Regions from separate parts of the Homo sapiens genome. Here regions 1 and 3 are each linked to region 2. Evidence: fine-mapped expression QTL. A gene starts in region 2. Each other region holds a variant in brackets. All regions are shown on one strand. Distances are between the middles of the regions.

Region 1 (2,798 bases), 76 kb after region 2:
TATTTGGTTTTCTGTTAATTCACTTAGGATAATGGCCTCCAGCTGCATCCATGCTGCAAAGGACATGATTTTGTTCTTTTTTATGGCTGTGTAGTATTCCATAGTGTATATGTACCGCATTTTCTTTATCTAATCTACCCTTGATGGGCACTTAGGTTGATTCCATGTCTTTGCTATTGTGAATCATGCTACAGTGAACATATGAATGCGTGTGACTTTTTGGTAGAATGATTAGTTTTTCTTTGGGTATATAACCAGTAATGGGACTGTTGCCTGGGATGGTAGTTCTGTTTTAAGTTATTTAAGAAATCTTCAAACTGCTTTCCACAGTGGCTGAACTAATTTACATTTTGATCAACAGTATATAAGTGTTCCTTTTCTTTGCAGCCTTGCCGTTATCTGTTATTTTTTGACTTTTTAATAATAGCCATTCTGACTGATGTGAGATGGTATCTTATTATGGTTTTGATTTACATTTCTCTGGTAATTAGTGATGGTGAGCATTTTTTCATGTTTCTTGGCCATTTGTATGTCTTCTTTTGAGATGTATTTGTTATTGAATTTTGCCCATTTTTTTTTTTTTTTGAGACGGAGTCTTACTCTGTTGCCCAGGCTGGACTGCAGTGGTGCAATCTCCGCTCACGGCAAGCTCCGCCTCCCGGGTTCATGCCATTCTCCTGCCTCAGCCTCCTGAGTAGCTGGGACTACAGGCGCCTGCCACCATGCCCGGCTAATTTTTTGTATTTTTAGTAGAGATGGGGTTTCACCGTGTTAGCCAGGATGGTCTCGATCTGCTGACCTCGTGATCTGCCCACCTCGGCCTCCCAAATCCTCATGCTAGGATTACAGGCATGAGCCACCGCGCCCAGCCAATTTTGCCCATTTTTTAATGGGGTTATTTGTTTTTCACTCATCAAATTGTTTAAGTTCCTTATAGATTCTGGACATTAGACTTTTGTCAGATACATAGTTTGAGAATATCTCCCCCATTCTGTAGGTTTTCTGTTTATTCTGTTGATAAACAGATAAACAGTGATTACCTTAGCATTTACAATATACATTTTAAATTTACCTAAGTCCATCTCCAAATAACACCATTTCACTTCATTAGTAGCACAGATAAGTCCTGTGTTAGTCCATTTGGCATTGCTATAAAGGAATGCCTGAAACTGGGTAATTGATAAAGTAAAGAGGTTTAATAGTTCTGCAGGCTGTATAAGAAGCATGATGTCATCATCTGCTTCTGGTGAGGCCTCAGGAAGGTTTTACCCTTGGCAGAAGGCAAAGAGGGAGCAGGCATGTCACATGGCAAGAGAGGAAGCAAGAGAGGTGCCAGACCCTTTTAAATAAACAGCTTTCACATAAACTTACTGCTGCAGAGAGGGCACCAAGCCATTGATGAGGGATCCACTCCCATGACCAAAACACCTATCACTGGGCCCAACTTCCAACATTGAGGATCACATTTCAACA[T/C]GAAATTTGGAGGGAACAAATACCAAACTATATAAAGTCCCGATTCCTCCTCCCATCCCTTATAATGCTTGTCATTTATTTTACTTACCCATATGCTGTAATAACCCAATGCATTCTTACTAATATTATTTGAAACAAATAGTTATCATTACATTGATTTAGAATAAGAAAAGATCTTACTTTTACCTTCATTTATTCCTTCTCTGATGCTCCTTTTCTCTTTATGCAGATTCAAGTTTCTGACCTATAATTTTCCTCTGTCTAAAAAAGAATCTTAACATTTCATTCGGGTGTGGTGGCTCACACCTGTAATCCCAGCATTTCTTGTAGGGCAGATCTGGTGATAAATTCCTTCCATTTTTGTTTGTCTGCAAAAGTCTTTACTTTCTCTTCACCCAGCCTATCACTGTATATAGGCTGGGTGCAATGGCTAACACCCATAATCCCAGCACTTTGGGAGGCAGAGGCAGGAGGATCACTTCATCCCCAGAGTTCAAGACTAGCCAGGGCAACATAGTGAGACCTCATCTCTACAGAAATAAAAAATAAAAACATTGTCAGGTGTGGTGCAGCACATCTATAGTCCTAGCTACTTGGGAGGCTGAAGCAGGAGGATTTCAAAGTCCAGGAGGTCAAGGCTGCAGTGAGCTATGATCACACCACTGCACTCCAGCCTGGGCAACAGAGTGAGACTGATGCTGAAAAAAAATTTTTTTTAATGATAGCCTAAGAGCTGTGAGAATTAATGTGAATTGCAGGACACATGTATCATCAACACTTTGAACATACTTGTGGCCCTTGTTCCTCTCAGGGCTTTAAAAATCATTTTTATATAATTTAAAAATTATATGTAAATATATATGCACACATACACACACATATACACATGTGTATATATACATATATGTGCATATACATACATGTATGTATATACACACACACACATATATATAAAACTGGATATAGAATTCTAGGTTGGTAGTATATGTCTTTCAACACTTTAATTATTTCATCTGATTGTCTTCTTGCTTGCAGTTTTCGGACAAGAGGTCATTGTAATTCTTATCCATATTTCTCTCTAGGTAATGCGGTATTTTTCCTTTTGTGTCTTTCAAGAATTCTTGTTGTCTTAGGTCTTCTCAGATTAAATATAATATGTCTATGTGTAGTTGAGGGTTTTTTAATGTTTAAAAAATTCTGCTTGGTGTTCTCTGAGCTTCCTGGATCTGTGGTTTGATGTCTATCATTAATTTTGCCAAGTTCTAAGCCATTATAACTGCAAACATCTCTTCTGCTCCATTCCTTTTTTCTTCTCTTTCTGGTAT
Region 2 (2,671 bases):
CTGCCCACCGGGCTGCAGCCTTCCTGGGCCCCCTGAGCTCCTGCCTGAGAGTCCCCTGCAGATCTGGCTCTGACATCCCCTCATTAAAGGGGCCTTCCTCAGCCTTACCCCTGAGTGGCCCCAGCAGGCTCTGGCCCTCGCTCCCGCTCTCTGGATGTTGGATAAGTCGCTGCTGAGTCCCTGCAGGGAGGCGTCTGGCTAGAGCAGCCCCCACCCCCTCCCCACCCACATCCCAGGTCCTGAGTGGAACATCAGCCATGTGGAGCCCTCATGGACCTGCTGTGCCCAGCCCCAGGCCAGTCCCAGGCCTGCCTGGGACTGAGCCCTGACTGCACAGAGCCAGGTCCTGACCGCACAGAGCCACTTCCTGACCCTGCCCGACATATACCCACACTGTGCCCACGCTCCTGTGGGGCACGAGAACCAGGCAGGAACACTGGCTGTCACCCAGACCCGAGGCCCTGCCCAGGGGAGCTAGGACTCCAGGGCAGCCCCTCCCTGCCCCTGACCACCTCTGGCTCCTGCCTAGGGCCTGGCACCATTCTGGCTGTGAGGCGTCCAGCTGGGCTCGTGCCAGCCACCCTTGCACCCGAGGCCCCTCCCGATGCAGCCAGGCCTGGACCTCACTTACCCCATTGGTGCACAGCCTGGTACGGGTTCTTCTCCAGGGACGCTCGGCGGATGACAGCAAAGTGGGCCCCGAAGTAGGTAAGAGTCACCATGGTGGCCACAGAGAGGCCCAGCAGCTGTGGATAGGGCAGACTCAGAGTGTGGGGCATGGGACTGCTGCAGGAGCAGGGAGCTCGGCCCCAGCGGGCAGGGTTGGGGCTCTCTCCAGCTTCCCGGTCCCGTGAGAGACAGGCTCAGCTGCAGGGATTCCCGGTGTTTCCGTGGAGTGGTCTCAGGAGGCCTTCACTGCAGACGCCCCAGCACACTCACAGGCACCCCCACATGGTAGACGCATACACGCACAGCCCAGCTTCCCCAGACACCCAGGACCTCTGATCATTGTGTCTACGGAGTGGGAGTGAGCCCCACCCCTGTGCCAGCACCCTCCGGGGCAGGAAGGGGAGAAGATCCCTGGAGCCCGGCAGCCAGTGCCCCTCCACCCCAGCTCGCCCCAGGCCTCAGCCCCACTCAGGCCTCCTCCAGGCTCTGTGCTGCCCCTCAGGAGGAGAGACGGGGTTGCTCATGGTGGTCCCTGCCTGCCTGCGGCTGTCTGCAAGGGCAGGACACATGTCTGCAAGGGCAGGACAGGGACAGTAGGGCTGGTGTGTGTGTCAGGGGAGGGATAATCCCTGTGCTGAGGCCCTGCCACCCCTCACCCCTGCTCACCCCCACCCACCACCCACTCCTGCCCGACCTGCCTGTTACCAAGATAAAGAAGCAGGTGACCAGCATCTGGCATTTGGCAACCCTGACTCGACTCCAAGGCCCCATGACGGTTCCTCTCCTCTCCTCTCCTCCCCTCCCTTCCCCTCCCTGTGGTTTCCAGCTGGGCAGGGGCCTCAGACCGCAGCTCACTGCCCAGGAGGTAGGCTGCATCCGCCCCTCTGTCTGTCTGTCAACATCGCCCTAGGACCGAGCTGCTGGGTGCCCCGGAAGAAGGGCAGGCAGGAAGGGGAGGGGCAGTGAGGTTGGCTCCCCCCACCACCTCACCCTGGTGCCCCCAGCCCAGCCCAAGACACCAGGGCATTTGCTGACATCTGAGGCCCTTCCCAGGAAGACATGGCCTCGTTCTTGGTGTGGCCACTGAGGACGGCGCTGAGAGGGGGAAAGTCATGGGCAGGACCTGGTGTGGGATGTGGAGGAGACGGCGCCCGGGGAGGAGGAGGTGAGCTCCCCGTCCTGGGAGTGAGCAAGTGTGGACTGGGCCTTGGGGGCGTAATCCTTGGAGGAATTTGGATGGGGTCTCCTTGGAACATCATTATTGAGGTGTTCTTAGGAAACACCCTTTGAAATGTCCTGTGACAGCTTAAGTTTTGAGAAGGTCGTTGGTTTTAATGCCTTCGTGGGCGGCACTCATGGATATTTTGTCGCAGAGCCTTCTTGGGGCCACAGGGGTGGGCTGGGGCCTCGCTCACACTCACGTGGGGCCTCCAGGGGGAGGCTTTGTAAACCTCGAATTTGCAATTACACCGAGCCGTGTAATTACGTATGGGTGGGGGCAGCGCTGCGGCCCCAGTACAGGCAGGGTTTCCGTGGGCCTCTGGGGCAGGGTGGGCCTGAAGAGGGTGAAAATGTTCCAGGTGAATCCATCATTCAGGGACCACTCCGGGCCCTCCCAGGAGTGCTAACAGGCGGCTCTGCTCGCCCCTCGGTGCTGGAATTGCTCCTCCTGCATTTGGTCAGGACCTCATCAAGGGGGAGGGGGCCCCAAGACCTGCAGGCATGGCAACCCCAGCGTGGCTGTGGGAAGAGGGCCCAGCTGCCGCCCGCTCAGGAACGCTGCTGGAGGAACTGCTGAGGCCACCGCCTCCCTCCCTCTGCGGAGGGAGAACCAGGAGAACCAGGAGGGACAACCAGGACCCCCGTCCAGCCCAGCACCCCCAGGCAGCACCCTCTGCAGCTCTGGCCCCCAGGAATTCCCACCCTGAGTCTGTGGGGGCTTGTGGAGACCTCAGATGCCTGGCACCCACAGTGTCACTTCAGCTGGGGGCCTAGGTGTGGC
Region 3 (2,798 bases), 610 kb before region 2:
CCTCTGCCCCCATTTATAGCACGACTTCCCGACCCCCTCTCTTTTCTCCCCATTTCCCTTGATCCGTCTATTGCATGAGGCTTCTGCGGCTGGCACTGACTTGAGGGGGTGGTGCTGGTCCAGCACTGGGGTGGCCTCCCTGCTGCAGATGGTGGGCCACTGTGGCTTCCTTGGCCACCAGCGGTAGAGGCACGGGTCCCTGACCCCCACAAATCCAGTGGCCCTTGGCTCCCAGGACGTGCTCCCTCCTCACCTCCCAGCCCCGAAACATGAAGTGCTGGGGGGCGCAGGGCTCCGAGCCATCCACACTTGAAGATGCACCCCATTTCTCCCCCTTATCTGGGTGCCTACTCAGTAGCTCCCTGGAGTGCCTGACAGGCACCCAGGCTGGGCCTGAACAAGACCCAAATCCCAGTGGCACCCCAGGCTGCTTGGGCCTCTGCGCAAGGCGCCAGGCTCCCCAGGGTCAGGCACGGCCTTGGCACTGCCATCTTGAGTTCCCACCCACATCCCACCCACTGGCAAAACCCAGCCAGAATCTACCCTCTGCTTTCTCTCATCACGGTCCCCTCTGGTCCAGCCACTGTCCTCCCCCACCTCGGCCGGCACAATGGCTGTCCTACCGGTCTCCCTGCAGGGGAGCTCACCCCCCATTCTCACCCCTGCTGTGCCACCCAGGGCACCCCGGCCTGGTGCCTGCCCCTTCTTCCTCCCTCCAGCCACACGGCCCCCTGGCTTCCACACCCAGGGCCTCTGCACCGTGGTTTCTTTGCCTCCCTCTCCTGCTTCAGGCCTCGACTCAGATGCCGCCTCCTCAGACAGGCCCTAGTGATCCCATCCATCGAGCCCCCAGTTCTACTTTGTGACTTTTTGCTCCATGTAGCTCAGCCTGATGTTACGGGAATTCCTATCACATTCCCTTCATCCCAGGGACTCAGCCTGTGTTGTCTGCCGCTGTATTCTAGAACCAGAGTCCTGGGGGCAATGTTGAGGTGTTCAAACTACCCACCCCACCCCACTCCACCTCCTGCTCACAGCCATCAGCAGCCATCAGTCCCCAGCCCAGGCTCCAGTGAAAATGCTGGGAGAACGTTCGGGGACTCAAACAAGGCCGGCAGCACAGCCCTAGAGACCTCCGGAGAGGGAGGTGTGCTCTGGGCACCGTCCAACAGCTCAGCCCCGCTGCCACAGCATCCCAGTCCCAGGGTGCTCCTGTCCCCAGCAGGAGGCTGCTGGGAGGCCTCCCTCCTCTCAGGGCCTCAGTTTCCCCAGCGTCCCAGTGGGGCTGTGCGTGGACAGCTTGGCAGTCCAGTCGCGCCCCGGACAGCACTGGGACATCACCTGGCCCTATCCAGGGCCAGCCAGCCCGGGAGGTCAGGCCTAGGCCTCGCGCGGGGCCAGACGTCCCCAGTAGCCACATCACGTGGCCACTCGCGCCCCACGAGCAAAAGAGGAAACCGAGGCCAAGAGGAGGCGGGGCGGGGCCGACCCAGCCGCGGGCGTCCTGACCCACAGACTCCGCCCCGGCCCCCACCACTCACCCGTACGCGGAGACCAGGGTCCCGCCCAGCAGGGAGCCGAGGATGACTCCGACGCCGAAGCAGAGGCCCAGCCGGCCCAGGGCCGCGGGCCGCTCCTCGGG[T/C]GCCGACAGGTCCGTGATGACCATCTGGGCGGCTGGGGACGGGGCGGGGGAGCTGAGCGGCGAAAGCCCCTCGGTGGGGCCCTTCCCCCCCTGACCCGCCCCTCCACAAGCCACGCCCCACGTCGCCCCCCACCCCCGTCCAGCCCTTAGGGCCAGACCCCGCGCGCACGCAGACCTCCCTGGAGGTGTCCCGGGTCCTCCGCAGGCTGCCCCCGACCCGGCCCCACCTGGACTCCAGTCCCCCCGGCCCTACCTGGCAGCGTGTGCATGAGCGCTCCGGGCAGGCGCGAGGCGAAGAGCAGGTAGACCCCGGGCAGGGCCGGGCTGGAGGCGGCCGCCAGGAGCAGGTAGAGCGCCAAGGCAGCCAGGAAGGAGAGCGTGAGCGCCGCCCGCGCCCCGCGCTGGTCTGCGAACCTGGGGGCCGAGGGGCGGGTCGGACCCTCACGGAGGCGGTCAGTGTCCCCTTCCCCCCGTCCAGGGGCTGCCCAGGCGGGGCTGACCAGGGAGGCTGGAGTGCGGGATGGGGATGGAGGGCGGGGGCGCCTGGGCGGCTGCTGGGAGGCCTCCCTCCTCTCAGGGCCTCAGTTTCCCCAGCGTCCCAGTGGGGCTGTGCGCAGACAGCTTCACTGAGCTGGGAGTCTGACCCAGGGCAAAGACCAACTCCGTGTAAAAATAAATGGTGGAATCCCAGGGGACCAAAGGGTGGGCCCGCGTTTTACAGAAGGCGTTTGTCAGGTTGGGTCTGAGAAAGCAGCGCCTTTCTCCCTTCTGTTCTGGGCCACTGGAAACCCTCCCAGAGATCGCTGCTGGTCTGCTGCCTGCGGAACCCTTCATTTCTGCCTACGGGTTGCTCTGAAGAGGCAACTCCCAATACGTGTCCCTTGCTCCCCTGTCTGCTGTGGCTTGTGGGAGGATGTCCCTGTCCTCTCTCAAGCTCAGTGTTCCCACAGCACTGAGACCCGGGGTGTATGGAGCCCCCAAAGTCCCTCCTGCCTGGTCTCGGCAGGCCTACGGGCTGGTGCTTACAGCCACGAGGTGTTCACCAGTCACACTCTCTCTCTGGCCACAGGCAGGAGTAGTGGAAGGCGTGGGTGGGACACCCGGGAGCCTACCAGGGGCCAAAGTTCTTCTGCACCCCCATCGGCCTGTGACACAG

Evidence for each region.
Region 1: its variant is fine-mapped to the expression of C11orf21 in whole blood (INTERVAL, PIP 0.91).
Region 3: its variant is fine-mapped to the expression of C11orf21 in lymphoblastoid cells (GTEx, PIP 0.97).

The regions. Positions count from the first base shown.
Region 1 is chr11:2,224,382-2,227,179 of GRCh38, reverse strand. No RefSeq gene overlaps it. Among named protein-coding and RNA genes, the nearest start is that of ASCL2, 45 kb to the left of the region's middle. The variant T/C (reference allele first, on the strand shown) is at 1,474.
Region 2 is chr11:2,300,919-2,303,589 of GRCh38, reverse strand. C11orf21 (chromosome 11 open reading frame 21) reads left to right here and starts at 1,672. Exons shown (of 4, transcript NM_001329958.2): 1 at 1,672-1,834. The coding sequence starts at 1,782. It overlaps TSPAN32 (tetraspanin 32), which reads right to left and starts at 1,577. Exons shown (of 10, transcript NM_139022.3): 1 at 1,375-1,577; 2 at 632-746. The coding sequence starts at 1,440.
Region 3 is chr11:2,908,454-2,911,251 of GRCh38, reverse strand. It overlaps SLC67A1 (solute carrier family 67 member 1), which reads right to left. Exons shown (of 11, transcript NM_002555.6): 4 at 1,896-2,056; 5 at 1,542-1,674. Among named protein-coding and RNA genes, the nearest start is that of SLC67A1-AS, 6.3 kb to the right of the region's middle. The variant T/C (reference allele first, on the strand shown) is at 1,643.